Homo sapiens: one gene and its partners. The protein of the gene in region 7 interacts with the protein of the main gene of each other region in a pairwise test. Each region holds a gene or a part of one and is shown on either strand. Other genes may lie near its edges.

The links.
Region 1: the proteins of MSX2 (region 7) and LENG8 interact in binary tests that used the Homo sapiens proteins (3 or more experiments, as listed by UniProt).
Region 2: the proteins of MSX2 (region 7) and TCF7L2 interact in binary tests that used the Homo sapiens proteins (3 or more experiments, as listed by UniProt).
Region 3: the proteins of MSX2 (region 7) and PATZ1 interact in binary tests that used the Homo sapiens proteins (3 or more experiments, as listed by UniProt).
Region 4: the proteins of MSX2 (region 7) and TENT5D interact in binary tests that used the Homo sapiens proteins (3 or more experiments, as listed by UniProt).
Region 5: the proteins of MSX2 (region 7) and ZFHX3 interact in binary tests that used the Homo sapiens proteins (3 or more experiments, as listed by UniProt).
Region 6: the proteins of MSX2 (region 7) and POU6F2 interact in binary tests that used the Homo sapiens proteins (3 or more experiments, as listed by UniProt).

Annotation. Positions count from the first base shown.
Region 1 is NC_000019.10:54,451,822-54,456,379, reverse strand, and holds part of LENG8 (leukocyte receptor cluster member 8), read right to left. Parts: intron 4,288-4,558; coding exon 4,113-4,287; intron 3,730-4,112; coding exon 3,628-3,729; intron 2,835-3,627; coding exon 2,724-2,834; intron 1,951-2,723; coding exon 1,698-1,950; intron 1,430-1,697; coding exon 1,288-1,429; intron 1,017-1,287; coding exon 813-1,016; intron 414-812; coding exon 135-413; intron 56-134; coding exon 1-55.
Region 2 is NC_000010.11:113,165,216-113,168,739, reverse strand, and holds the end of TCF7L2 (transcription factor 7-like 2), read right to left. Parts: intron 3,186-3,524; coding exon 2,768-3,185; 3' UTR 1,062-2,767; downstream 1-1,061. UniProt on the Homo sapiens protein: Participates in the Wnt signaling pathway and modulates MYC expression by binding to its promoter in a sequence-specific manner. Acts as a repressor in the absence of CTNNB1, and as activator in its presence.
Region 3 is NC_000022.11:31,328,817-31,333,374, forward strand, and holds part of PATZ1 (POZ-, AT hook-, and zinc finger-containing protein 1 isoform long C), read right to left. Parts: intron 109-4,558; coding exon 1-108. UniProt on the Homo sapiens protein: Transcriptional regulator that plays a role in many biological processes such as embryogenesis, senescence, T-cell development or neurogenesis. Interacts with the TP53 protein to control genes that are important in proliferation and in the DNA-damage response.
Region 4 is NC_000023.11:80,418,721-80,423,715, reverse strand, and holds the start of TENT5D (terminal nucleotidyltransferase 5D), read right to left. Parts: upstream 3,270-4,995; 5' UTR 3,153-3,269; intron 1-3,152. UniProt on the Homo sapiens protein: Catalyzes the transfer of one adenosine molecule from an ATP to an mRNA poly(A) tail bearing a 3'-OH terminal group.
Region 5 is NC_000016.10:72,795,945-72,800,502, reverse strand, and holds part of ZFHX3 (zinc finger homeobox protein 3), read left to right. Parts: intron 1-373; coding exon 374-476; intron 477-1,788; coding exon 1,789-4,558.
Region 6 is NC_000007.14:39,204,306-39,208,863, reverse strand, and holds part of POU6F2 (POU domain, class 6, transcription factor 2), read right to left. Parts: coding exon 4,538-4,558; intron 1,473-4,537; coding exon 1,244-1,472; intron 1-1,243. UniProt on the Homo sapiens protein: Probable transcription factor likely to be involved in early steps in the differentiation of amacrine and ganglion cells. Recognizes and binds to the DNA sequence 5'-ATGCAAAT-3'. Isoform 1 does not bind DNA.
Region 7 is NC_000005.10:174,727,582-174,731,396, reverse strand, and holds the end of MSX2 (homeobox protein MSX-2), read right to left. Parts: intron 2,239-3,815; coding exon 1,814-2,238; 3' UTR 501-1,813; downstream 1-500. UniProt on the Homo sapiens protein: Acts as a transcriptional regulator in bone development. Represses the ALPL promoter activity and antagonizes the stimulatory effect of DLX5 on ALPL expression during osteoblast differentiation. Probable morphogenetic role.

The DNA of each region.
Region 1 (4,558 bases), on a different chromosome or scaffold from region 7:
CACAGGGTGACACTCATTCCCTGAGTAGGAGCTGTCGGAGTCTGAGTGGGAGTCACTGCAGGAAGAAGCAGGAGGGTCAGGCCTGAAACGCCTCCCCCTCCCTCACACACAGCCCCAGCCGGGAGCCTCAGTACCTTCTGCGGAAGTGGCGCGTCGGGGACCTGGAGGAGGAGCGGGAGCGGGAGTCTGTGCTGGAAGAAGAGCTGTTGTCCTTCATGAAGACGTTGCGGTTGCCAAACTTGGTGAAGCTGTTGCCCCGGGCTCGACCGGCACCCCCAGCCCCGGGCGTCCCTCGCTGGGACGGGGCACCCCCGCCCCTTGTCGCCGAGCCTGCCCCTCTAGGAGGGTGAAGGCTGCTAGCGGCCTCCCACCGCTTCTTCTTAGGGCTCTCAGCCACAGGCTCCCGGGTCAGCCTGAGAATACAGCAGGGCAGGGCGTCACCAACCCCGCCAGACACTGGCAGGACAGCCGCCACCACCTCCCTCAAGGTACCGACCCGCCTCCGAAAGGAAAGGCACTTACCCCAGGCGGCTCAGCTACTACAGTGCAGAAATGAGACGCGAACCCAGGTTTTCCGTCTCCAGAGGGTGCGCTTAACCACTGAGCAATGCACGCCTCTCCAGCACCCATGGTCCCCACCCCACCCCACCGGCCTCCCTCCAACCAGGACTTCATCCCCCCAGGATCCAACTTTCCAGTTCATTTCTCTTTGGAGCTCCTGGTACCTGGGACCCGCAACTCTCCTACCTCCATACCCAGCCCATGCCTCTCACAGCACCACCCTCCCACCTATGTCCCCCACCCAGACTAACCCCGGCAAGGGCTCCCGGCTCCAGTCAATGGTATAGGCCGAGCCGTCCTGCAGCCGCGCCTGCAGCACCTCCTTGAGCAGCTTTTCCGTGCGGTCCTTGTCCTCCTCCGACTCACAGGCGGTGAAGCAGCGCTCCACATACTCTTTCATGTCCTGGGGCCAGTCATCCGGCTTCCCAGACAGGTTCCCCCGGGCAGAGGACCCGCTGCGGGAGGACAGATGAGGGGCTCAGCTGGAGACGATCCCAAACTCAAAAGACCATCCCCACCGCCACTCTGAGCTGACACAGCGGGACGCAGTCCCCAAGTTTTCCTTCTGTCTCCTTCAGTGCTCACAGCAACCCCCAAGAGAGGGTCCTTCTGCCCTTTTCAGAGGCGCACACTGAGGCTCAGGGTGGGCAGCTGGCCAGTGGGACTGGACCATAGACGCTGAGTGCAGAGTGTGGGGCTGCGACGGGGCAAGGGGGCAGACGTCACCTGTGGTTCTGAACTTTCTCAGGGTTGGGCTGGGGGCCAAAACCACTGTGCTGGCCCTCTGCGTTGGAGCCAAAGCTCTGGGTGGTAACAGCAAAGGGTCGCTTCTGGATGTTGAACTTGAGACCTCCAGTCCCAGGGGCGGCTGTGAGGGCAGCGAAAGCTATGGTTAGGCCCTTCCCCGGCACATCCAGGGGTCCCCAGGGGACGGGAGGAAGTGGAAATGCAGGGAGGAGCGCTCAGGTTCTAGAGGAGGGCTCCAGCACACATGTGCCTGGTCCAGAGCAGCCCCACCCCCAGCCTGGCGATCACAACACCCAGAAACAAGGAGCAGCACACACCACGGGCCTCACACCCAGGAGCTCTTATGAGGGCCCAACCGCTCGGACCTCCACGTAGCTCTGCCAACTTACGTTTCATGCGGTTCCACAGCTGTTGGCCCTTCTTGGGCTTGGCAGGTTCGGTGTAGGTGTGTGGCCCATAGGCCTGGCCCGTGGCGGGCCCCGCCTGGCTGTGCTGTGTGGCTGGAGCTGTCCCAGGCTGAGGGCCACTGTTCAGCGTGTGAGCCCCATGTGGGGGATTTGAGGGCTGAGGGGGCTGAGCCGACGGCAGCTGCTGAGGGGGAGCCTGGTAGGACATGCTCTCATCCATGCCGGGGACTGGGGGCTGCAGAAGGAAGCAGGCGCTGAGCACGGGAGGCAGATTCTGGGGCTGGCGAGTGGCACTCAGCCCTCGCTGTGAGGACGCAGTGGTCACAGCACTCAGCACTCAACCCTCCCGTGACCTTCCCAAATGTGAGTTCATTCGAGTCCTCAGTAACTCTGTGAGGTTAACATTTGTTAACAGCCCTTTTCACAGCTGACAAGGCTCCAGCTCAGAGACTAAGCGACTTCCCAGGGCCCTAAGCTATGAAGCGGCAGCTGGCAGCGTTTCAATGCTGGAGTAACAGCCACCGACAACACACCCACTCCAGCGCTACCATCTGAGCACAAGACACCCATGAGCACACACACTCATGGAGCCCAAGGATGAGGCTACCATCCTTCCCGCTTTCGAGAGCTGACCGAGATGCGTAATTACACCAGGGGTGGGACAGCTGGGATTCAAACCCAGGTCTACCTGCCTCCTGTGCACTAGCCCGGCCATTCCTCCAAGCTGCACATTCAATGCAAAACCCAGCCGGTGTGTGCACGCCTGTGGGTGACCATGCTAGGGAAAAAGATGAGATGTCTTTCAACATCTCAGCCCTGGCCTTGGCTCAGCCTTAAACCCACCCCAGGTTCAAACACTATGCTCTGTCCTCCTCATTTTCAGATCAGGAGTTGCTTGGAAGGAAAAAAGCAGCTTAAGGAGTACAAGCCATTCCTCATTGACAGCTCATTCAAAAATCTACACTTCCTCTGCTTGAGCAGGGTATGGGAGCTGGGCTAGGATGTTACCTGGTTCAGAGTCCCTTGGTGTTGGGGTGCGGATGGCTGCTGGGGTGTGGCTGAGCCATAGGAGCCGGCCATCCCATACTGGGAAGGGGAGCCATAGCTCTGGTACATGCTCTGCAAAGGCGCAGGGAGGGAGGGTTTAGTGGGAGGCCTACCCTTTCCGCTTCCCCAGCCTGCTCAGGAACTACACCAGCCATGACCCTCTACCAATCCCTCACCCCTTTCTCTCTTCACTATATTAATGCACCACATCCTCTCATATATTAGGAAAAGAAAAACCTCTATCAATCCCACATCTCACTTAGCTAGTTCTCGGAAGAATATAATCAACGATACTGAGTGCCAACTCTTCTAAGCACTACGACAGAACAAAAGGAAAACCCATGCTGTAATGAAGCTTGTGCTGGAATTACATGTCCGGCTGGAGACATCAACATGTAATACATCCAGCAATAAGGATCATGAAACAATAAGATGGCAAAGAAAGGGAGAGGGACAGGCTGCGAGGCAGGAATGCTACTTTCAATCAGTGTGTCAGGTAGAGGCTCTCTGAAGGCGGCATCTGAGCAGAGACCTCCAAGAGGCGGCAACACAGGGAGCACTGCAGCCAGGGCAAAGCGAGAGCGGGCCTGGCGGGTGCGGGCATCAAGGAGGTCTCTGCTTCGATGGCCATGGCAGAATGAGCATGAGGAGAGAAGGGACCAGAACCGGGTATGTAGGACCTTGTGGCTCATGGCGGGGACCTAGGAATTTACCTCCTGGGCAAGTTAGAGGGTTTCTGAGCAGTTATCACTGCGATCTCCAGTCCATCCACCACCCAGCCCCATCCCGGCAGACTCCACTTCACCTCGCCCCGACCCAGCAGACTCCACCTCGCCCTGCCCCGCCCCACTGGCTGGGCACTCACCATGGGATAGTAGTAGCTGTAGGGGTAGGCATAGTTGTACTGCTGGTACCACTGGTAGTACTGCTGCTGCTGCAAAGCTGAGGCTTCTGCCTGGGACACGTACTGTGGAAGCAGAGGCACATGTGCCGTCAGCAGCCCAAATCCACAGGCACACGGCCCCCAAAGGGCAAGCCTGTTTACTGGTGGCCAATTGCCAAGGGATGAAACTGGGTCCATGTATCTGCAAAGTGAGCCACTGTCTCTACCATGAGACTCACGCACGTTAGAGACCAGGGGCATGGGCATGGCCTCCCTCTTCAGAACCACATCACGCCCTAATTTCCTCAAGGAAACAGAACTTTTTCCCGTTCAGATTTAGATACCCTGGAACGTCTTTTCATGTTTCCCCTCAGAGCACCCCGTCTGAATGATACAACAGGACGCCAGACTGTGTCCCTCCCACAACCTCTGGCTCAGGGTACCCCAGCCCCATGAGGCCTTCTCACCTGTGCACTGGCCACAGGCCCATTGCTGCTGGACTTGGCAGAGCCGCCGGCAGCTCCTGACTTGCTGATGCTGGCCAGGGCCTGACGGGCCTTCTCCCACTCCGGGTTCTCGTGCATCGGCGTCTCCATGCCATTCTCTCGGCCTGCCCCAGCCACCATGCTGTACTGAGAAGACCTGCAGAGAGAGAGGACATCAAGTCACACCTGTTCTCCCCACTGTACACAGGTGGGCAAGTTGGGAGGCAAATTCCAGCCCCTGGATCCCATATCTAACTGTTACTACCAGTCTAAGCCTAAGTTTTCTAATCTGTACTATGCTGATAAAGGGTTTCTGCTTCAGAGTCTGCTGGGAGGGATAAATGAGATCACCTACTTAAGGTACTTATCCCAGAGCCTGGCACACAGCAGTTGTTAAAACCAAACAAACAAAACAATTAACAGAACCC
Region 2 (3,524 bases), on a different chromosome or scaffold from region 7:
CAAAGGTCACTCGGCCCAGTGTGCAAAATAAAATGAGGAAGGACAACCAGAAACACTCCTCCCTGGGAATACAAAGCAAAGCAAAAACAAAATGCCGAGATTTTACAGAAGAAAAACTTGCTTGAGCAAAGCAGTTTCCGAGGGGCTCTTAAGTCCTTGATGCGATACTGTGGTCACCTTAAGAAACCACAACGGCAACACGAACAGTTCCATGCCCATTGAAATCGTCATCCTTTGAAGGTATAAATGTCCTAGATAAATGGAACAATGTGTCCATCCATCCATCTAGTCAGCAAGAGAAATGAAATCCAGGGGAAACCTTAGGGAAGATCTGTATCATGGCCCCTGCTCAGTGATGGTGATGAACTTGGGCTCTTACCAGGGTACAGCCAGAACACTTGGATCCCACATACAGCAAGGCCCTTCCACACACACCTTTCAGTGCATCACCTTAATCCAATTTTCTAAAAAGCTGCTTACTCAATAATCGCTCACTGCTAGAGAAAGGGCAGTTTGATACCCTTGCATCTCTCCCAGGATGCAACTCTTGGAGGTTAGGATGCTTTCACACCCATGATCCTTAACTGCTAAGGATGTGGTTTCTTAAGTGCACTCTTGGTGGACTAAGTCTCATTCACCAGAATTAAATTCTTTCTGCTTGCTACTGTGAGAGGATGAGTAGGATATTTCAGAGAAACTGGTTTATAGCCCCCAAAAAAGTGACATTTGCTCTGTAACTGTGCTTTGCTTTCAGCAACAAACTACTGGGAATGGCACGGTGAAATACTACAGAAGACACACACCAGGGATCCCCTTTGATACTGATCATCTCCATTGCAAATGACACATTATGCAAACCAGATACACCAAATGGGCCACGAGGATGGAGGGGAGGGGATCAACCCCTCAAAAGAGTCCAAGACCACGTTCTGGTATCTAAGTCATCACCTACACACTAACTGTATGGTCAAGTTCCAACGTGGGAATATGTTTTTCTTGATTACGGTAGGTCCAGTTTCCCTAGAGATAAAAATCCAAATCACAGAAACAAGTGACCAGCCTTTATCTGCACATACTAAGTTGCTTTTATTAATCCAGAACGGCATGCTACAGATACTGTACAGCATGAACATTTATTCATTACAAAAATGGCTTCCAAACCATTAAAAATGAACTTGGAATAAGAGCATAAAACGGAACAGTAACATCACAACTGTTAGGAAACATTCAAAGTATTCACAAAAAATGTTATAGTTAGCATTTTAATAAACCAGAGAAAAATCGGAGACAGTTTTACAATCGCTTCATGTCAACTACAATGGCACTGAATGAACAGGTTTCAGCTTTATACAGCATTTTGCAACATCAACATGCCTAGGTTTTTTTTATTTTTAAAGTCTGCTGCCTACTCGTATGTAATATGTGTACATAAAAGCGGCAGCTGGTTTTTCGTTTAAGAGTAATCTAATATACAGAATTTTGGCCCTTAAGGGTTTATACCTCTTCATTTAAAATGCTTTCTGGACAATCTGCTACCAAACACATTTTGTTATAGGTGACATTAAAACTACATACAAATCTACCTATGTAACATCACAGCAAAACATGATGAACAAAAATTACAGCATCAAAAAGAGGGAGAAAGCTAAATTCACTGAGAATTTTGGCACGTAAAGTTTTGTACACGGTCAGTCCGGGTCCTAAGGGCGCAGGGTAGGGCATCCCACTGGGAGTTCAAAGGGGAAACGAAGATGGTTCCCACTGCTGCTCAGACAGTGTCGCTAAAATTCCCTCACTCATTTTCAAGTCTTGTTTTACATAATGGCTTTTAAAGCAACTTTTGTTAATGCTACTGATCCTTAATGCAACTATTAATGTCCATTTGGTGACATCTGGGTTTCATACAGAAAAAAAAAAGTCAAAAAGGGGAAACAAAAATATATATACACATTTTATATATAAACTTAAAAACCTTGTACAAATGAGTTGTTATATATAAGATGCTTATGCTAAGGGGGAAAAAAACTTTATACAGTTTCAAGAAAAAGGAAAACATATTTAAAAAGGGACGACATACAGGTACGACAAGCAATCTCTAAAGCAATAAATACTACTGGCCCAACAGCGTTGTGATTCTATTAAGTGTTGAGTAGCGTCCCCTCCCCCCAAAAGAACAACACCATGGAACAAGGTATATTAACACATTTTTACCCTTTGTTTCTGTACATTTAAACAATAACAAGTAACATCACAATAAGAGTTGTTTCACACAGAAAAAAAAAAAAAAAGTAACGGCACTGCATTCATGGTGCCCTTACGGTTTAAAAACCAGATGTAAAATGATTGGTTCGCAAGCTCGTATTTAATACAAATAATACAGAACCAACTCCTTCTGGAGGGCTGCTTCAAAATTGCTTTTTTTTTCTTTTTGTTTTTTAATCAGTCTTTTAAAACTAAGCTATCCGAACTACATAACAGTTATGTATATATATATATTTTTTAAACGCTACAAAGACTTTAAACAGCTGTTGATAAAAATTTTGGTAGAATCATGAGGTTCTTCTCTCATCTACATATTTAAAAGGAGAAATTGAAATAAGAATGGGTCAAATATTGACCAATGAACTCGATAAACATCAACTAATGTAGCCACATGGCACAAAATTAAGAGAGTACAAAACAAAACCTTTCAAGGTGGGGGTGGGGGGCAAATTAAGAAAAGTGAAACAAAACCATAAACAAAGCAGCGGGGTTCACGACGCTAAAGCTATTCTAAAGACTTGGTGACGAGCGACAGCGGCTGGGGCTGGGTCCCGGCCAGGGAGCTGTGGGAATGTAAGGAAGAAGTCGACGGCTGTGCAATTGATGAGGAGGGGGCGGCAGGCTGCAAAGCGGCTGGGGGCAGGTCCAGGGCCCCGTTGGGACAGAGGGCGGAGGCCTTGTGGGTGGCCTCAGCGAGCAGGAGGGCGGGTGGCGGAGGCATCATGGACAGGTGGGCCAGGGGGTCGGGCTTCAGGGACAGCGACAGAGGCTGGGTCTGCTCAGTCTGTGACTTGGCGTCTCGGGGAGGGGAGCCTAGCAGGTTCGGGGAGGGGGGAGGCGAATCTAGTAAGCTTCCATCTGAAGAGGGTGGGCTGAGGCAGCTGCCTTCACCTTGTATGTAGCGAACGCACTTTTTTTTTCTCCTAGAAACAGGGGAGAGAGTTATCTGTGAATAGAGGGCACAGATGCCAAGGGAGAGAGTTACCTAATGCTCACACCCAAGCTGAGGTCACCTAAGGGATGTCCCACAGAGGTGGCACGCCCAGTGGTCCGAGGACAATTACAGTGGCGCCCCCCCAGGGTGGGTCGCTTACTTCACAGTGCCCAGATCTAAGCCTGCTCTGGCAAACAACTTATTTAAGAGTCTGAACTCTCTACTTGCTTCCCCCAACCCCTACTAAACACCCATGCCCCACCATGCCCAAATTATATACGAGAGCAGCATGGAGGCGGCCACCTGCAGATGGTGGCATCTATTTGCC
Region 3 (4,558 bases), on a different chromosome or scaffold from region 7:
ACGCTGCTCCCCCATTCAGGATGGGCTCCTGGTGCCTGGAGACCTGGGGAAGGGGAACACCGTGGTGGGTTTTAACATGGACCTTTAAGTAGGAGGCAGAGGAGAAACCTAAACAAGACAAAAGGAGATGAGATCCCGCGGCCAGCAAGAGATACCTCTCTCCTTCCCCCAACTCCTCTCCTCTGGCCGCTCTGGCTAGCATTCCCAGGTCAGCTGCACCTAGAAGGGGCCCCCTCCTGGCTCAAAAATGGCTGCAACCACATGAGCCATGTGACTCAGGATGGAGGGTGGCACTGTCCACAAATCGGCTTCTCTGCAGAGCCCACTCTGCAAGGCTGCGGTGAGGGGCTGAGGCTGGCTGCCTGGTGGGATGGCCTGAGATCCTGCTCCTGCTAGGGCCAGAGGCCAACTGCCTCTAGGGTTGCTTGGTGCCTCAGTAACAGGTGGTTTGAGTGGATGTCTCCTGCAGGAACCATGACTAGAAATGTGGTTAGACAAGAATTTGAGGCTCCAGGGAAGCCACAGGATTCTAGCCAGCAGGATGCCTGCTTAATCCTCGTAAAAGGAAACTGGACAACAAACGAGATGGAGGTAAAATGAAATCCCAAAGGAACGCCTCCAAGGATCCCGTCTTCTACCTGTCAGGAGATGTTCTATTTTTCTAACTTCCCCACCTTCAGCATAACAGGATTTAGTAACTGTTTAGACCTTTTGAAGAACAAAGACAAAAATAGGAAGTTGTGTCAGAGGAGTGCAGTCATCTCTTATTCATGGTAGTGTTTTGGTTCGATTTTGGAGCATCCACCAGGTTCGCGTACAGGAGAAGAAACACGGATGATCTCTGTCTTTATTTTGGGGGAGGACAATCCGGCCTTCTTGGGACTGTTCCAGCCCACCTCCCAGATGCTTCGGTCAGTCTGATCCACGAGATATCTCAGGCTGGGAAGAACACATCTTGGGCCAACTTCCACAGCAGCCATGCGTCCAAGGATACAGAATCAGGCAGGCCGATAAAAGGATTTTGACTTGGGTTTCACAGGAAGGAGGTATGCCATCAAACCCCACTGTAGTCAAGGATCAGAAGGTGCTTTTAGCAGGAACTGAAGCTTTTTAGTATAAGGCCCACTTAGGGTGCCAGCACCCTGACAGTGTCCCTTTAATCCACTTCAGATCTGGTTGACTCATCATCAGGTGTTTCCATTCACTTTCAAAATTACACAGTCACAGGATAACAGTGAGATCCACTGCTAAAGGGTAAAGGGTCAGAGGCTGAAGAGTACTGTGTAATGTCTGCATGAGATTTGTTTTAAAAAAGTCTGAATTGGCATGGTATTTTGAATGCTGCTGGAACTGTAATAAAGGTTCACCTTTAGGAAGTGCTGATGGCACACCAGGGCCCAGCACACCGCATGCACTATTCTATAGAATTTGCCCAACACCCTTTGTGCTACAGATTACTATTATACCCATTTTACAGATAAAGAAATAAGAGGCTTTGTGAGGTTAGGGAGGCTGAGGTGGGCAGATCACGAGGTCAGGAGATCGAGACCATCCTGGCTAACACAGTGAAACCCCGTCTCTACTAAAAATATAAAAAATTAGCTGGGCGTGGTAGCAGGCACCTGTAAGCTGAGATCATGCCACTGCGCTCCAGCCTGGGCAACAGAGCGAGACTCCGTCTCAAAAAAAAAAGAGGCTTGGTGAGGTTAAGTAACCTGGTCACACGTACAGCTACTGAGTGGCAGAGCCTGGACTCCAACCCCAGGATCATGTGCCACCAGAACTTGGCCCTTAGCTACTGGGCAGATGCTTTAACCCACTTATGCCTCATGTTCCATTATTGGGACGCTAACCTTTTAGGAATTATTTGTATCCTACTGCTCAAGATCATCATTAAAGTCTGATTTTTCACAAAAAAGTTTGTAACCTCCAGCATAAATGGGTTAATTGGTTCCTGTGTCTTAGCCCTGAGCCCTAGAAATATCCAGTGGACTTTTACAATAGGTTTCATTATTACCATTTACACTCATGTATTTTTCGACCATAATGGTATGTTAGAATGGAAGCTGCTGGAAAAACAGGGCTGGCCTGTGGGAACTTTATTTAACAAGTTCTCCTCTGACAGCAGCAGTTAGTGGTTCTGAAGGGAAATGTGGGATTGGGCCAATTTTCCTTCCTTTCCCAATACAGCTACTTCAAAGATCTGTCTAGACCAGGTGCTGGTGTCCTGCCCTGCCTGGTAGAGCAAGTTGTCCTGTGCTATGACCGCAGTGGTCTGCCTGAGGCTGATCATGGGTATAGATTGGTGTAAGAGGGTCCCATGTAGACATCCCTAAGAGGGAGGCTGTAGTCAGGAGTGAGGAGACAAGGCTAATGGGAAAGAGGCTGTTAGCCCTGCCCCTTGGGGTGGTACTGTAGAGTCCCCTAAAACAAAGCAGAACCAGGAGACATTGGCTCCCACCAATCAGTACAAGATATTAGAACTTTCTGATAATATGATGATACCACTTTAGAAGGTAATTTTTTCCTTTTTTTTTTTTTTTGAGACAGAGTCTCACTCTCGCTCAGGCTGGAGTGCAGTGGCACCATCTCGGCTCACTGCAAGCTCCGCCTCCAGGGTTCATGCCATTCTCCTGCCTCAGCCTCCCTGGTAGCTGGGACTACAGGCGCCCGCCACCATACCTGGCTAATTTTTTTTGTATTTTTAGTAGAGACGGGGTTTCACCATGTTAGCCAGGATGGTCTCGGATCTCCTGACTTCGCGATCCACCCGCCTCGGCCTCCCAAAGTGCTGGGATTACAGGCGTGAGCCACCGTGCCCGGCCTTTCCTTAGTTTTTTAATCCCTTGTGGGGTCTCTAAAATAGCATGAAGCTCTCTCCCTGTGATGAACCAGAGCAGGTCCACTGCAATCAAAAGGGGACAGAAAGGAGCGGGAGAGCACCAGGAATTATTATGTTTACTCCTTACTGGGAGAGCTATACCAAGAGAACACAGCAGATGCTCAATAAAAACTTGCTGAGTTTGGCTGGGCGCAGTGGCTCATGCACTTTGGGAGGCCGAGGCAGGCAGATCACCTGAGGTTGGGAGTTCCGGACCAGCCTGACCAACATGGAGAAACCCTGTCTCTACTAAAAATACAAAATTAGCCGGGCGTGGTGGTGCATGCCTGTAATCCCAGCTAACTAGGGAGGCTGAGGAAGGAGAATCGCTTGAACCAAGGAGGTGGAGGTTGTGATGAGCTGAGATCGCGCCATTGCACTCCAGTCTGGGCAACAACAGCGAAACTGTCTTGCTGAGTTTTCCTGAAAAACAGTCTTAGAAACACGTGGCTGAGTCCTCTTGACTTTACCCCAGCTGCAGACTGTACTATCTATAGCAAAACCACATGGCGGGGTGGTAGGAGTGGATCCACAGCTGCCACTTAAAGCCTAGAATTTAAACACAGAGCAACTCAGCAGCCAAGTGTTAGGATGAAACAGAAGCTGAGCTTCTGAGCAGAATACGTCTTTGAAGCCAGACATATTTAGCCGGAATTCTAAACTTACCCACCCATTCACCACTGATTAACCAAGATCCAAAGAGGCAGCTTGATCCAGCCATCCACGCAATGGAGATGCTGAGCACACATATGACTGCCACTACAACCAACAAGCCACCGGCCCTTTCACTCCAGAGACGATGGTCTTATTAGCAAAAGGCCACTGCTCCTCAGTTGCATTTTCTTGCCTGGTGTGCCTGCACTTGGCACTCCAGAAGCAAATCATCCTTTGGCAGGTTCCACATCAATGCAGGGGTTGGGGACTGCTTTCTCCTTGTCCAAACCCTGAAGGGGCCATTCCCAACTGCACTGTGTTGGAGTGGGCCTACATAGCTTGATGTGAGTCCAGGGGAACAGCAGGTTCCCTGCATCCATCCACTTGTGTGCTTACCTCTGACTGGGGAGAAGGCTTCCTCTACCTTTCAAGCAATGATGTTTGCATTCAAATGTCTCTGTCAAAGGCGGATTCCTGATAATCTGTTCCTCTTCACCATACCAGCACATAGGCATATATACAAAGATCCTGCTACAGAAACTTTAAAGGAAGAAAATCATGGTGATCAGCCAGGGCCTTCTCCCTTTTCCACTGTTCAACTCAACTGATTTCCTCAACTCAAAAATGTGGGAACAAGCTTTTCTAGCCATAATACTCCCTCCACTGCAAATGATCTTCCTGTACAAATAGTATCATACACATCCTGATATGTCTGTATGACAAAGCCAGAGTCATCTGTCTCTTCAACTTGCATCTGACTCACGTGTGAGGCTGCAGGAGTCAGGCTGCCTTTCCTCTTTGCCATTCTTCACAGCCAGGAGTCATTTTTGTGGCAAAAATTGAAAAAGACAGATCTATAGGTAGATACTTAAGTCAACTATTTAAGAATTGTTGGGATTGAAGGATCTGAGGGCACCTGGAAGTTCACCTGATTCAATCTTAACTGTTCTGACATTCAGCCTTTGTTTGAACACATGCAGAGATAAGAACATTCGTTTATTCGTGCAACCCCTCCTGTAGGTA
Region 4 (4,995 bases), on a different chromosome or scaffold from region 7:
TTTTTTTTCTTTTCTAAACATGCTTTAAACCGTAAGCTCGGCCTAAATAAATCATTGCTTCAGCTCCTAATTGGTCCCAGGGCCAAGGTCTTTGGCCAAGCTTTCACTTCAGCTTCTACTAGGTCCTGGGCCAAGCTAGGTAGCCCCAATAAATCATCACTTCAGCTCCTGATTGGTCCCAGACCAAGCTAAATCACACTTTCCTCAAAACAGCCTGCAAACTATGCACATTCCTTCCCATCCCGGTCCATAAAAACCCTGAACCCCGGCCTCATGGTGGGGAACCCCTTTGGGCCCCACTGTCTGCTGCAGAAAGCGTTCTTCTTTTGCTTATTAAACTTTCACTTGAAATTCACCCTTGTGTCCACGCTCCTTAATTCTCTTAAATATAAAAAAAAAACTCTGGATACTATCTCAAACAACAAAATACTGCTACATATTTTGCTTCATTGGGAAAACTACAACAGTAGTACTACTTCCCCTTCCTACTCTTCCTCTGCCCCTTCCAGTGGCTGTAGCTGGTAAAGATTTATAGCTATGTGAATTCAACAGTCACCAAGTGAGCTTCTCTTGCTTCTGATGTAAATGATGCAGAGTTGCTGCCTCTCCAAACTGCCACCAATTTCAGAGAAGCAAGCTGGCCAGAGAAATCTCCAGCCCCTTTTGAAGGGAATCGCTGAGAATACTCTGAAGTACAACAGGCTTTCAAGCAAGCTGGGAGGTAAAGCCACCTAGTGAGACCAAAATGCCATTCTCTCTGCACTGGATGCTGTACAACTCGCCATGACCCTCACAGTAAACCCAGTAACCTCATAAGCTTTATCCACATCATTCCAAATCACTAACCCCTCTGTGGATAACCCTGTCAACACTCAAGGAATTAAGTATTCTCTGAAGGGGACTCCAGAATTATAGCCAACACCATATACATCTTTCACATCCCTCTTAAACACTATCTGAGGAAGGAGAAAAGTAGAAACTCATCCCAATGTTTCTAGAAAAAGCCTTTTACTAACAAAAAAAACCCAAAAAACTTCTGTTCATAGCTCTCCCCGTCTACTCACCGCACCCTCTCAGACATTAAAACTTACCTCACCAACTGCTGCTCTCCTCAAACCCATCCCATCAAGGAGAAAAACTACAGGGGTGTGGTGTTAGCGTGAGGCTCAGGAGGGAGCCTGCTAGTAGGCAAGCAAGAGAAGGGGCCATTAAAGAAAGATAAAATGAAATGCAATTTTTTTTTTGAGACATAGTCTAGCTCTGTTGCCAGGCTGGAGTGTAGTGGCGCGATCTCAGCTCACTGCAATGTCTGCCTACCAGGTTCAAGCGATTCTCCTGCCTCAGCCTCCCGAGTAGCTGGGATTACAGGCATGCGCTGCCATGCCCAGCTAATTTTTGTATTTTTAGTAGAGACGGGGTTTCACCATGTTGGTCAGGATGGTCTTGAACTCCTGACCTCGTGATCCACCCACCTCAGCCCCCCAAAGTGCTGGGATTACAGGCATGAGCCACTGCACCCAGCCATGAAAGGCATTTTTTTAAAGGGAGAGAAATAAAGAAAGAAGGAATCATATGGATTCTACCTACCCTAGGTGGGGTGATCTCTTATTACTTTCCATTCTCCTTCATTGCTGAACTTTCTCCCATGGGATACTACTACCTTTCTCCTTTCCTATACCAAAAACTATTTTCCCTTTTTTTCTTATAAATAATGACTTGCCCCATGAATTCCCAACCTCCCACTCAGTAACCTCCACTTTTTTTCCCACCCCCCGACACACAAATAACTCCTCCTTCTCCTCACATTTCTTCAAGCATTTCCAACACAAATACAAATTTAAGTTCACGCTCAGAAGGCAGTTTTGCTGAAAGACGTGGCATTTTTTTCTAGTCACTTTTTTCCTTAAGTCTCCTTATCATGGGGAAGTCCCCTCCCTCATTTCAACACCTTCTACTCTTAGTTTGGCTACAGATATTCAGGTCCTCATATTTTCTCTCACATCTGCAGTTAATTTTCATAGGAGAAAAAGGGTGAATGATAATGGCATTCTTTAAAGAAACAATTTCAAAATGCAGTCTTTGCTATTTTAAAATACAATTGGCTTAATAAAATCCATTCAGTTTATGATTAATTTGATTATTTTTCTAAACTTTACTTGCATTAAATTGTTCTACTAGAGGAAAATAAGGTAACTTCACTCTTAAGGTACTTAAAAGCTATACAAGTGAGGCCAGGCACGGTGGCTCACGCCTGTAATCCCAACACTTTGGGAGGCCGAGGCGGGTAGATCACGAGGTGAGGAGATCAAGACCATCCTGGCCAACATGGTGAAACCCCGTCTTTACTAAAATACAAAAAAAAATTAGCTGGGTGTGGTGGTGCATGCCTGTAGTCCCAGCTACTCTGGAGGCTGAGGCAGGAGAATCGCTTGAACCTGGGAGGCAGAGATTGCAGTGAGCCGAGATCATGCCACTGCACTCTAGCCTAGTGACAGAGTGAGACCCCATCTAAAAAACAAACAAACAAACAAAAACTATACAAATGAGATAAGACATGAGTGCTTTAAAGGAAAAAAAATAATCTGAAAAGGAAGTTCAGGACTATATAAAAAAAATACAGATATGTAAACATGCTTGATTACCTGACAATAACTTTCTTTCACTGGTATGTAGTAATTAAAAACATTTGATATCAAAAAAGGAATTAGGTATAGTCTTTTAATACTTCACTTCAGAAACAAATTAAAGTTTGAAAATAATCCATCATCAGGCTATTTATTGAGATGTCAATGTGTCAGTCAATTAATGTAGGACGTAGGGAGTTTTGTAACTCTCTTACTCTAGAGTTCTGAAAAAACATAATTCTTAATACTATATCAACGTATCAGTTATGTCTTTTATCTCTTACTCTTGAGCTAGTTCAGAAAATAAAATATTAAAACAATTATTGATGCCCTTTTAAACATATTAACTGAGTTCAGTTTTACCACAGCCATGATTTTGGGCACAGTTATTAATGAAAGAGATAATTTTCAAAGATATTTTAGTTGAATCAAATAAGTTTCTGGACAAAATATAAATTAAACGTCAATTTTGATGTGTGCTCAGAGTTAAAACTAAAAGAAAAACTCCCTTTCTACAAGATTGCTCACCGTGTCTTCTGATAGTAGACTTTGCTGAATTTAACAGTCTTACTCTGAAGACTAACATCCTTTACCAGAGTTCTGCATCACCTGATCTCCACACATTCTCTACACCTCACTTGCTGCAATTCCAGGGTTACTGTTGCCAGGAGACAAGGAATATTATTATTGCATCATTAATGCTCTTATAGATGGGGGAATTTTCAAAAAATAAATTTAAATAGGGCAATTCTGAGTCCCAAATCTCAAAAAAGACAATGTTATACTAGATATATTAAAGATTAAAAACAGGTTCCTCAAGATACTTGAACTTAAGTTAAAAAATAGTGAAGAGGGAGGAAGGAGAAAAAAATAGTGAAAATAACCAGTTAAACCATGCAGATTCACACAGATAGGCAAACATTTTTGTTTTGTAAGTATTGTAACTGCCTACATGTAACTTCAAAATTAAGTTGTAATTTCTGAAATACAGAATTTGGGAAAATATTCTCTATTTAATTTTTACCCCCAAGTGAACATGTTTTTGTTTTAAAAAAAATTCTTAAACAATTAAAAAGAGGCTGGTCATGGTGGCTCATGCCTGTAATCCCAGCAATTTGGAAGGCTGAGGCTGGAGGATTACTTGAGCCCAGGAGTTCAAGACTAGCCTGGGCAAGATAGAGAGACTTCGACTCTATAAAAAATATAAAAAGAAATTAGCTCGGTGTGGGGATGCATATCTGTCATTCCAGCTACTCAGGAGGCTGAGGTAGGAGAATTGCTTGAGCCCAGAAGGTCAAGGCTGAAGTAAGCCATGATCACACCACTGCACTCCAGCCTGAGAAACAGAGCAAGCCTTTGTCTCAAAAAGAAACAGTTAAAAAAGTATTATGGTTGATAAGTATAATTGTTTTGAGTGCCAACAACTAATTTTTAAAAAGAACATTTAAAAGACAGAGTTCTTCTCAAAATAATGTTTTGTTACAGTATGTCCAATTTATAGAAACTATCACATAACTGTTTGAATAAGAATATCAAGATTACAAAGATAGGCAAATAGGTAGATATAGGAAGAAAATTGTCTGGCTAAGCCAGTGATCCATGTGATATTTTTAAGATAGATAATTTATAGCATTTTCCAGTAAAACATAGAAAAGACTAAATACATTTTGGAGGGGCCAAAGGTAAAACAAGATACCTACTCAATGTTTTCCTGGCAGTATAATATATGACAAAGAAATAAATAATTTTTAGTAACATTTAAGACTATAATCCTAATCCTTGTATATAAAGAATGTTACACTGGAGTTTAATTTTAAAGAAAAATATACGTGTACAGTTTCTTAAAGATATGAAAATTACATTACATGATATATATAATACTGAATATAAGTTTTTAATTTTAAACTTTTGAGTGTAGAATTTTTAAACATAATTAAATGGCAATGATAACTAAAAATTATATGATGCTTATAATGTGTCAGGTATTAAGTGCTTTAATTAACTCAATCCTCATTCAAAAGAATGTGAAGAATAGAGGTAGGGTCTATGATCCCATTGAAAAAAATAAAAAACAAATTATGCAAAGAAATTCATGAAAAGAGTAACAGATAAAATGGACATGATGAACAAAGAGTTAGCTAGCTAGGTAGGGGGTGGAGGAGGGGTTTTAAGTAGAATAAGAAATCAGATATTTTGTAGGGTGCCATTTAATATACAAGCAAGGGTTATTGGAAAGAAATCTGAAAATGTCATAAGGCAGTTTCATTAATCAGCAATAATGAATTCTGTAAAGTACTACATGTTTAAAATAAAATACATATATCAGATATAGGTCAAATTCTAAAATAAAATACATATATCAGATATAGGT
Region 5 (4,558 bases), on a different chromosome or scaffold from region 7:
CTTATTATGTTTTCAGCAGCTTAAGGTGGGCCTTTCAACTTATCTACCTAATTGGTTGCACAAGAAGTTTCACAGCCCATGACAAAACATTGTCAGTGATCAAAGTCAAAATTCTGCATAAAGGAAAAATATTAATAAGAAGATTATTCTTCAAGTGTGCACTGCTAATTATGTCCAGAATGTAACCGTAGAAACACTTTTGACTGATGTGAGCTTTGTCTAATAAACATGAATCTTCAGTGAGCTATGAAAAGTGAGACACCTCTAGCTTTACACTGGTGAAGGCTAATTTTGCTTATTAAATAATTTTTAAACATTTCCTATTTTGTGTCGCTTTCCTCTCCATTTGACTCTCCTTGCTCTTGCTCCTCAGGTGACCACCCCTGAGATGGTGATGCCAAGCAGCATGTTCCTCCCAGCAGCTGTTCCAGATCGAGATGGGAATTCCAATTTGGAAGAGGCAGGAAAGCAGCCTGGTCAGTATCATTATTCTTGACCCCAAGAAATTGAAACAAGATGGAATGCCAAAATGTTCATGGAGAAAGGTTTTCAGGAATTCTTTACAATACTCTTAAGGTGAATGTAACTGATCAGGAGATGAGGGGCACTGTCATCAGCTACTTTATACTCTGCTTCTTGGCATGTATTTGTATATTACTCACATGGTTTAAAGTGAGAGAAAATTAGTATGAGAACCAGTGGAATTCTGGCACAGACACACACATCTTCTTAAACTATACAATTAGGGAGTGAATAACCAGAGACTCAGTCAGTAGGCCCTACCATTCTAAGCCATTAAACACTGTATTTCTGAGGACTTAATTAGTAGGGACTTGTGGGTTGATTTTTAGGTACACTGGATTAGTTGTCTTTCGTTCTGAGTTTTTTGGGATTGGCTTAGGATGAAGCACAGAGATGCTGATGGAAAGAACATTGTTGTAGACAGTAGTTGGTGCCACATAGTGTTTCCTGGCTAGATGAATGGTTAGACCTCTGTGAGGCTGTCCTACATCGTTCACCTCTAAGGTGGGAAGAGTTCTAAGTTGGGAAGAGTTTGGCCACACTACTGTCCTGCCTTCTCTCTTTCTTGTGAGTTTTCCATATTAGACAATGGACAAATGACCTGTTAAAGGGTCTCGGTATTTATGAGTGTGATGATCTCATTGTAGGGAAAAAAATGTATTTTAAATAATTGAACACTTGAATGTTAATTGCTTATTGAATAGAGATGGCAATCAGAAGTCACATTATAACAAGAAATTAAATGCCTAAAAATATGTATCCCCAAATTTCTTATATTACGATGTTCAGCAGTTCTTGTAAATTCCTCACAACTTAGGACAGCATTAATTCACATATTCTACACTTCAGATCTACTGTGCTAAATGCTTATTACATAAAAGATGAACATAAAAGGGAAATCCAGTCTAAGATCAGTAACCTTCAAACCAGCTCTTGAGAAATTGAGGATTCTGAGTCAAGCAATTAAATGCTATTTAAAAGACTGTTAGATCTGTGATATGACATGGGTCTATTATGCATTGAAACTTTTTGTATTTCCTTTTATCCATCTCTGTTCATGTGCACCCTGTTTATAATATGTGCTCTATTGGAGGAACAAAAGAAAGCAGGAGGCGCTCCGCAGAGATTCTGTCATTCAGGTTGGGCACTTCCCTCATCATCAGATTCTGTGTTCATGAGGCCTGACTAGGTAGACCGCTCTGGGTGCCATCCTTGAAACAAAGCCTTCTTTATCTTTGGGTTTGATTTTTTTTTTTTTTTTAACAGAAACCTCAGAGGATCTGGGAAAGAACATCTTGCCATCCGCAAGCACAGAGCAAAGCGGAGATTTGAAACCATCCCCTGCTGACCCAGGCTCTGTGAGAGAAGACTCAGGCTTCATCTGCTGGAAGAAGGGGTGCAACCAGGTTTTCAAAACTTCTGCTGCCCTTCAGACGCATTTTAATGAAGTGCATGCCAAGAGGCCTCAGCTGCCGGTGTCAGATCGCCATGTGTACAAGTACCGCTGTAATCAGTGTAGCCTGGCCTTCAAGACCATTGAAAAGTTGCAGCTCCATTCTCAGTACCATGTGATCAGAGCTGCCACCATGTGCTGTCTTTGTCAGCGCAGTTTCCGAACTTTCCAGGCTCTGAAGAAGCACCTTGAGACAAGCCACCTGGAGCTGAGTGAGGCTGACATCCAACAGCTTTATGGTGGCCTGCTGGCCAATGGGGACCTCCTGGCAATGGGAGACCCCACTCTGGCAGAGGACCATACCATAATTGTTGAGGAAGACAAGGAGGAAGAGAGTGACTTGGAAGATAAACAGAGCCCAACGGGCAGTGACTCTGGGTCAGTACAAGAAGACTCGGGCTCAGAGCCAAAGAGAGCTCTGCCTTTCAGAAAAGGTCCCAATTTTACTATGGAAAAGTTCCTAGACCCTTCTCGCCCTTACAAGTGTACCGTCTGCAAGGAATCTTTCACTCAAAAGAATATCCTGCTAGTACACTACAATTCTGTCTCCCACCTGCATAAGTTAAAGAGAGCCCTTCAAGAATCAGCAACCGGTCAGCCAGAACCCACCAGCAGCCCAGACAACAAACCTTTTAAGTGTAACACTTGTAATGTGGCCTACAGCCAGAGTTCCACTCTGGAGATCCATATGAGGTCTGTGTTACATCAAACCAAGGCCCGGGCAGCCAAGCTGGAGGCTGCAAGTGGCAGCAGCAATGGGACTGGGAACAGCAGCAGTATTTCCTTGAGCTCCTCCACGCCAAGTCCTGTGAGCACCAGTGGCAGTAACACCTTTACCACCTCCAATCCAAGCAGTGCTGGCATTGCTCCAAGCTCTAACTTACTAAGCCAAGTGCCCACTGAGAGTGTAGGGATGCCACCCCTGGGGAATCCTATTGGTGCCAACATTGCTTCCCCTTCAGAGCCCAAAGAGGCCAATCGGAAGAAACTGGCAGATATGATTGCATCCAGGCAGCAGCAACAACAGCAGCAGCAACAGCAACAACAACAACAACAACAACAACAACAAGCACAAACGCTGGCCCAGGCCCAGGCTCAAGTTCAAGCTCACCTGCAGCAGGAGCTGCAGCAACAGGCTGCCCTGATCCAGTCTCAGCTGTTTAACCCCACCCTCCTTCCTCACTTCCCCATGACAACTGAGACCCTGCTGCAACTACAGCAGCAGCAGCACCTCCTCTTCCCTTTCTACATCCCCAGTGCTGAGTTCCAGCTTAACCCCGAGGTGAGCTTGCCAGTGACCAGTGGGGCACTGACACTGACTGGGACAGGCCCAGGCCTGCTGGAAGATCTGAAGGCTCAGGTTCAGGTCCCACAGCAGAGCCATCAGCAGATCTTGCCGCAGCAGCAGCAGAACCAACTCTCTATAGCCCAGAGTCACTCTGCCCTCCTTCAGCCAAGCCAGCACCCCGAAAAGAAGAACAAATTGGTCATCAAAGAAAAGGAAAAAGAAAGCCAGAGAGAGAGGGACAGCGCCGAGGGGGGAGAGGGCAACACCGGTCCGAAGGAAACACTGCCAGATGCCTTGAAGGCCAAAGAGAAGAAAGAGTTGGCACCAGGGGGTGGTTCTGAGCCTTCCATGCTCCCTCCACGCATTGCTTCAGATGCCAGAGGGAACGCCACCAAGGCCCTGCTGGAGAACTTTGGCTTTGAGTTGGTCATCCAGTATAATGAGAACAAGCAGAAGGTGCAGAAAAAGAATGGGAAGACTGACCAGGGAGAGAACCTGGAAAAGCTCGAGTGTGACTCCTGCGGCAAGTTGTTTTCCAACATCTTGATTTTAAAGAGTCATCAAGAGCACGTTCATCAGAATTACTTTCCTTTCAAACAGCTCGAGAGGTTTGCCAAACAGTACAGAGACCACTACGATAAACTGTACCCACTGAGGCCCCAGACCCCAGAGCCACCACCACCTCCCCCTCCACCCCCTCCACCCCCACTTCCGGCAGCGCCGCCTCAGCCGGCGTCCACACCAGCCATCCCCGCATCAGCCCCACCCATCACCTCACCTACAATTGCACCGGCCCAGCCATCAGTGCCGCTCACCCAGCTCTCCATGCCGATGGAGCTGCCCATCTTCTCGCCGCTGATGATGCAGACGATGCCGCTGCAGACCTTGCCGGCTCAGCTACCCCCGCAGCTGGGACCTGTGGAGCCTCTGCCTGCGGACCTGGCCCAACTCTACCAGCATCAGCTCAATCCAACCCTGCTCCAGCAGCAGAACAAGAGGCCTCGCACCAGGATCACAGATGATCAGCTCCGAGTCTTGCGGCAATATTTTGACATTAACAACTCCCCCAGTGAAGAGCAAATAAAAGAGATGGCAGACAAGTCCGGGTTGCCCCAGAAAGTGATCAAGCACTGGTTCAGGAACACTCTCTTCAAAGAGAGGCAGCGTAACAAGGACTCCCCTTACAACTTCAGTAATCCTCCTATCACCAGCCTGGAGGAGCTCAAGATTGACTCCCGGCCCCCTTCGCCGGAACCTCCAAAGCAGGAGTACTGGGGAAGCAAGAGGTCTTCAAG
Region 6 (4,558 bases), on a different chromosome or scaffold from region 7:
CTACACTTTGTTGCTTCGGCTTTCACCTTGTGTATTCCTGCTTTATTTGCTTAATCTTGAGATCTGGCTTCCCAGGCACTCTCAAATTTGAAACAAGCAAAGTTTGTGCATTAGCGTATCCTGGGCATGCATGATTTATGAATGGCAGGTTTCTTGGCACAATTTAATGGTACAAGAGAGACTTCGTTTTAAACATCAAAATGGAAGTCAAGAAGTGGCAACAATGGGTGGGGTAACAGAACATAGAGAACGGAAAGAAGTTTGGGTCAAGAGTGAACAGTTCTTACTTGGTCTGTTTCTTAGTCTTGTGGACTGATTCTCCGATAAATTATATGAAGCCCTAACATTTGACCAGCTAAAAAAGTATTTTAAATTGCTATTCTGATAACTTACCCAGACAGGCCCTCATTCTGCAAAAATTTTAATTGTTAATTTTATATATATATGAAGAAAACAAACATCTTTGACTAGTCCAAAATAAATTCATTTTCTCTTTAGCAGGCATCCTATTTATATTCAGGTCATTTTCCACCAAAATAATTACTCCTCTGACAGAATCTTTTGTAAATCAATCTATCAGTCAATGCTACCAAATCTTTTAAAGAAAAGTCAAAACCTTCATAATATCAAGACAACTACCCTTCCTAAGTAAAATTAGAGTCTGACTTGTTATATGTCCCTGTAGTATAAAGGCTCAACATACAAGTCTATTTTTCTCATTGCAAAATATGAGCTCAAATAACACAATTTTTGTTTAATAACTATAACTAAAACATACTTTGTAGAGCAAAATAATCATTAATAAATTATTCCAAATAATATCTTGTATTTGAGATGTTCCAATCACTTCAAACACAAAAAAGCAACCTCTAACTTTTCTTTACCCATGGCTAAATTGAAGAATTGGTGAGATGATAACTCAGGTCTTCAAATAACAACACAGGAATTTTACTTTTAAGTTTCTGATATGTCATGCAATGATGACTCATAAATGCTTCCAGGAGTCCTGAAAAGTTTTGATACCAATGTTAGGAAATGAGGATTGATAAAACCAATGGCTTGTGCAGGCTCAGGATTCACAGACAACTGAAAATTTTGCTTCCTGTGGAAGCCTTCCATATCATTTAGGGCAGAAGCAACTCTGAACCACATTCACCATTCTAGGCACATTTTTTTTTGCCCACTTCAGAGAATACTGGCCAACGGGTAGAGCCTTACGTGGCGCATGGACATTATGGATTACCTTGTAGATTTTGCAGTGGCAGAGTCATAATGCCTCCGGCTGCAGCTGCTGCCACCAGCCCTTGGATGTTGGTGAGATTCGCTGTTGGCAGTGTGAGAACCAGTCCTTGCTGGCCTCCTAGCTGTCCCGCCATGTTGAAGGGAATGAGGATTGGCTGGTTGAGGGCTGGGGGGCCTCCCGGCATCACGCCGGCCACAGCAGAAGCTAACTGCTGTGCCGTCAGAAGTGGCTGCAAGGAAACAGATACAGCTAGCTCACTTTCCTGTGGAACCAAGGCATGGGTTTTAAAAACATCTTCTTTCCACTTAAGTAGGGTCAGAAAGTTCCCGAAGAAGTACCAAAAAACATGCCCTATCTCATTAAAAAAAAATGATTGGTAGAAAAAAATTTTCAAAGTTGCATTTCATTGATTTCTTTGGAAAATTTCATTTGGTTTGGACTTCTTGTGAGGAACTCAAATATCTTTACAAGTAATAACTTACGTTTATATGCTACTCTTCCATTGAGTTTCCATTTGATCCTATCTTCATATATTTGAAGCTCTCAGCTAATTTATTCTCTGTTGTTCCAGAAAGAACTCATTGGGATCAGTGGGATTTTTTGATTCAAAAAGAGCAACGAAATACTACTTTTGACTTTTAAATTAACAAAAATAATGTAGAAAATTTACTCAATGCTGGAAAGTCTGTATTGACACCATTATGCAGATCTATGGCTGGGGGACATGTACACTAGCATAATCCTTTTGGAAAGCAATTTAGAAATAGATTATCAAGAGCTGCAAAAATATTTATCCCCCTTTAACTCAGAATATACTCCTAGGATATAGCTTGAAGATATTATTCAAAAGGAAATAAGATAACTGCATAAAAACATGTATTGTTTCAAAATACATAAATATTGAAAATAGCTTATTACAGTACTAAACTAGATGAAATATTGCATAGTCATTAAAATGGATCATTATGACACCTCTTTAGAAAAATAGAAAATGTTTATAATATGAGAATAAAATAGAAAGTAAGCTGGATAACTATTAAGTAAACTTGAATGATTATTGTTAAAATGGTAGAATTATGTATGTACAATGACAAGATCTAAAACAGAATGTAAGACATAAAAATATTTGATGTGGATAAAACTTAAAATCTTTGAAAATAATTCTTTTGTTATTACTCTAACATCATTTGCCCAATTAAAATGATATTATACAAACACATGTTTACATCCACTATGGATGGAACAGCCCTTCTCTGGTAGGGAAAGGCAACTGCTCGGCATGTTTTGAGTGCAGCACGTGGGCTCTTCACCAGGATGACATGGGAAGGATTCCTGCCCTGGTCAAGCCAGATGACCACAAGAGTCATTTGATCTTAGAGTCCTTGATTCAGGACTTTCATTGCAGCCTTGTGGGAGCCATGTGGAACATAATAATCCTGTATCTGTTGTTCTTCTACAAGAACCAATGCAAAACTCTTATGTGAGGGGTAGGAAATTAAATACAGGCATACTACTAAGCTCAATGTATAATAGCCAGGCACTATTCTAATGCTGTAGTTAATCTACCAATGAGATACAGAGAGGTTAGTAACTTGCCCAAGTCCCATGTCTAGTTGAGAGGGGGTTCAAGTTCAAGCCCAGGAAGGCTGCTCCACAGCCCATGTTTTACCCCTTTCTTGTATCCCCTCCAATACAAAGAACAGATTTAGAGAAGTGGGGCTGCTTTATCTGAAGAATGAGGGGAGGTGTGGAGAGGGCTAAGCCCATACTTGGCCATTCCCTGCAGTGTTCCTTTCAGGACCCTTTGGGGGAGACTCTGCAGAGCCCTAGGATTCTGCACAGCTGAGTTTAGAACTGCTGCTTTAGACCCCACAGGCCTTGCTCCTAATGTATTTGTGCACTTTGCTAAATTCACACCAAGTAACTGTGCTTCCCTTTTTAAAAAAATACAGTTATTCTAATGAGCAAAATAAATATACTTCGGGAATGTATACAAAATTATATGCTGGCCCTCAGATTCCAGGTGTTACATCACTGCCAATAGTGATATTATGGTAAGAGGGAAGGCAAATAAGTAGCTCTCAGACCATATATGGGTCATAGATTTGGGGGTTTTGGCCTGCAGCATTTTAAAAATAGGATTTGTGGGCTCAAGGCAGGGCATGCACTCTCCAGTTTGTCGGAGGGCCACCACTCCTCACTGACCTGGGCCTGTGGGGCTGCCTACCCAACCTGAAGGCATTAGAGTGTGTTACCCCCAGTATGTTCACAGGCAGGTGTGCAGACATACACACACACAGACACACATAATTACATGAACACACACACAATGTTACAAGCATAAAATTATAAAGCGTATGACACCAAAAATCCTGTTCCTGAGAGTCCCAGGAAAACTCTCTAGGCTTCCATAAGCCAGCAGACATTTCCCCAGGCTTTCTGTCCACAGGCACAGAGTGATCTGTCCTCCGAGATGGACTACGGGATCTGAGGCCATAGGGAGTCTTGGTGGCGAGTGGAATAAGAATGTCAAGGCCAACCCTCACTCTAAACTTGGGTGAGCCCTCAATGTGCTTAAAGTCATTAACTTCCAGGAGCAATAATGACAATAAAAGGGAGAGAAAGGCCCAAGTCTCAGCTTCTCTTTCCAAAAAAGCAGGATGAACTCTGAAAGCTTCACACTAAATGATAGAGGTAAAAAGGAAAAAAAAAAAAAAAAGCCCAGCCTTTTATAATTGTGTTCTACATCTCCATATAGCCCACACCAGGCTGCAAAAAACAAATATTGGACTTTAAAAAATAATGATTGTATTTCTTTATTAATGCAAGAGCTATGTGTGATGTACAGTATTGTCAAACCCAATAAGCTGAACTTGCATTAAAATTGCATTAACTTTTTTATATTAAATCACATCTTCTATTTCAAAAATGGCTATAGTAAGGTTGAAATAACTTAATTTTCTTCACACTCCAGTCATTAAAGTTTTACTTTCCAGGAAACTGCACGGTAACCAACAGCACAATTGTAGTGGGTTTTAAGATAAAAAAAAAAAAGTGTTTCCACATGATTAAAGCCAACCTTTCCTTTAAGAAGAGAGAAGAGTTTTGCAAACACATATTTTCTTGGTGGTATTTAATAAATAATGTAGTCATACAGCTTTTCATACGAAAATTTATTACCATCTTTGCTCTGTTGGAGTCAATTGGATTTAACTCATTATTATTTATTTGGTGATTTATATGGTTAAACCATCCTAAATGCAGCCCAGTGGAAAGCAGTTGAGAGATACTGACCTGTGGCCCAACTGGAAATGG
Region 7 (3,815 bases):
GTAAACGGAATGCGATTTCACACACTCCTGAAAGGGGAGCCGGCTTCCATCCCCCAGCCCAGCGAATGCGCCTCGTTACCATGTCCACTTGCAAACAGCTATAAGGACCCTTTTCCTCAGTTTTAAGTTTGATGTGTTGGTAGCTGGGAGATTTCAAGTTCAAGATTTTCCCTTGATCATGTACAAATGATTTAGATGCTGGCCGATCTCCGCCTCACCACTTATTTAAAGCTTATCTTTCACTGTACTTTTTCTGAAAAACTCCTCGCAGCAATTCCACCTCTTTTCCATAAGTAACAAGCTGCCAGAGGAAACATTTCAAAGTATTTCAGTAGTTTCAGTTCACTCCCCACCACCACCAATCACCCCAACATGGCTGAATCTGGCCACAACTCTTGGTTGACTTACATTAAAATATTAAAAAAGACCAGCTTCCCCCTCATGTGGGTAGCACTTTCGAGCTAAGCCCAGCTAAGAACAGAGAACACCTCTTAAAATAATTGTGAGTTTGGACAAACTTTACTGCAATAAAACAAATGCTTAATTTAATTCAGAATAAGAGATAACTCTTCAATAAAATATATCAAATTGTACAAGCACCCTTTCAAAGGGATAAAGGTATACCGGAGGGAGGGGACAGATGGACAGGAAGGTGAAATACCAGGGAACTTAATGGGCTGTTTGACAATCCCATTTTCACCAAGTCAAAACATGGCTTTACCTTCTGCCCCCCAACATGTAAAAAAGTATATAAAATTTTCTAATAAGTTTAGGACATACAACAGGTACACACACAGAGAAAGCATATTTTTTTTTCTTTCTGGATCTACTAATTGTTCAAGAATATTTAGCATATAGGTAATGGTTACAAGATACTCATTTTTTAAGCAGAAAATTACTAAACCCCCACCCAAATCACCTTTGCAATCTGTGAGGATGAATGTACCTAGTATTTCTCAGAAACCATCAATTCCTCTCAACAGGTTTTAACATTTTACTCTCCAATTATCTGAAATAAAGTTACCAACAGCCTTGAGAAGAATTAGGAAGTATTTCTAATTTTCTACCTCACCTCCAGGCAGTCTCAGGATTCTTCTCATCCCAGGTATTGGTCTTACAAAAATATTCTTAAAAAAGGAAAAACTTTAAAAATATGTGTGTGGTGGGGCGGTGGGGGGCGGGGGAGAGATAGGAACAACTGTAGTATATAAAGAGGTTTCTTTTAATGCAAGTAAAATGCAGAAATATGATGTGTCCCCTTCACTTTGAATAATCTCTCCATATCTAATATTTTCTGTGTGCATTGTGTCTGTTTCTTTGTTTTCCATAAGCAGAAGTCAATAATCCCGTAAAAATCATTGACTTTAGCACATTTTGCAAATAATTTGTCTCCCTCTTTAAGAAAATACAACAAATGGACTTACACAGTGTCTTTTGGGAAGGTGAGATATAGAAAAAAAGCACATATGTATATAAATTTTGCCTTTTAAAATAATTTGAATTTTTACGTCTGCTGTATAAAAATGTATTATATTTTATTATATATATATATTTATACATAAAAACCATCAGAGCCAATCTTTGTGAAAGGAAAAGGGGGCATCTGGAAGATTACACCAAGAAAACAGGGCTTGGTGCCTCCGCCTACAGAACAAATTTCAGCTATGTCGTGTGGCCCTGTCAGCCTAGCCGCTTAGGGTGGTGCACGCAGGGTTAGCAGAGCAGGAGTACTGGCTGGTACTGCCTTCGTGGAGAGGGAGAGGAAACCCTTTGAAACAAGCATCCATCATGGAGTCTATTGATCTGGTCTTCCTTAGGACAGGTGGTACATGCCATATCCCACTGGCGTGGCATAGAGTCCCACAGGCGGGATGGGAAGCACAGGTCTATGGAACGGGTAGGATGCTCCATATATGGACGCTGCCTGCAGGGGCGAGCTGATGGGGAAAGGGAGACTGAAGCTGGAGGGCAGCATAGGTTTTGCAGCCATTTTCAGCTTTTCCAGTTCTGCCTCCTGCAGTCTTTTCGCCTTGGCCCTTCGGTTCTGGAACCAGATTTTGACCTGGGTCTCTGTGAGGTTCAGAGAGCTGGAGAACTCTGCACGCTCTGCAATGGAGAGGTACTGTTTCTGACGGAACTTGCGCTCCAGGGCGAGGAGCTGGGATGTGGTAAAGGGCGTGCGCGGCTTCCGATTGGTCTTGTGTTTCCTCAGGGTGCAGGTGGTAGGGCTCATATGTCCTAGAGAACAGAGAGAGGAGCGGATTAGCAAAAGAAAGTTACATTAAAATAATACTAAAAAAAACCCATCTCCCCCGTCATCTCTCTAGGTTTTTTCCTTTCGGGCCTCCCCTCTCAACTGAAAGCACTTAGCTTTAAAAAAATCTATATATACATACATATACACACACACACACACACACACACACACATATCTATGTATGGAAAGACATACTTTGTTTCATCTTTGAAAAAGGTACCTTTGTCAAAACTATGTGTGTTTCTTGGGGGGAGGGGGACCATATATAAATGGGTAAGTTGCTTCGTTTTTTAAAAATGAGTTTTTTAAGAAAAGTTTTGGAAATGTAATGGTGTAACTGAACCTTCTATATGGAAAACAAACAGCATTAGAGATAACAGAAATAGAACATTTAATGTAAGACAAGGGAATCAAGTGGTCGGTGAGAAATGAACCGCTATCTCTTCTGAGCATAATTTATCTTCTCTTTAAAAATGGGAGACCAGGTTCATGATTAGCCCAGCCTCCCTTGGACATGGAGACAATCACATATGGGAAGGAAAATGAAAAAGGTTTTAGCAACCGGGTTAGCTGTTTCCCTTGGTCTCCTCTCTGAACCAGAAAAAGTGGATTGCGTCAGCATATTTATGAAGGATAATCGTGCAGATAAGGTCTGTGGTAAATTAATAGCATCTTTGAATTTGGGGGCAGTCCCACGCAATAAACAGTCACAAGCTGTCATTGCATCCAGTCCACAGATTATAAAATCTGAACATCATTTTACAGATCTGGATGTGGGATAAGGTTCTTGGCTGGGCGCTTCTGTAATATAAACTTTACTAAGACGAAGGGAAAAATTAGCTAGCCCATAAATGTAAATGTCAGGGGAAATCATGCTGCCTCCAAATTGAGAGCACGTGATGACATCTTAGTCATCCCCTCTACCCATTCTATGGCTTCGGGCAAATGTGTAAATGATTTGTTTGTCAGGGGGAAAAACAAGCAAAATAAAGGTATGCCAACAGCATCCAGACTCCACATTTAAAATGGATTCAATTACAGCAAATCACGGACTGGGACATCCTTGTGATTCCATAGCATCAACTAACTTTGGGCTTGTCTTCCTCAAGGGTGGGTGGGCGGAGGAGGATAGAGCTGTGGTGATAGAATACTTAACAATTAATTTTCTGCATTTGGCTTTTACGAGCTATGCTAATTTTCCAAATGTGGCCACAGTATTAACTCTAATGTATTCATGGGAGAATGTTGCATTTCTTGTTTAGTTACTTTGGTGGCCCAAGAAAGAGTTTACACTTCATACTTGAGGGTGACACAGCACAAGTCCCAACCCAGCTTCCATTTCCAACAAGAGATGGATTTGTTCCAGTGTCGCATTATTACCCATCACTTTACTGAATCAAAAAGAGATAAGAGGCTTTGTAACCAACCAAAGAACAGAAATCTGGGAAAGGGAAGGATAAGAAACTACCATAAAAGTCTATACTTTTGCATTTGCTAATCCCTAAGTTACTAGACAGCCGGGGAGCCAGCTTCTTAATTTACAAATTAACAACACTGT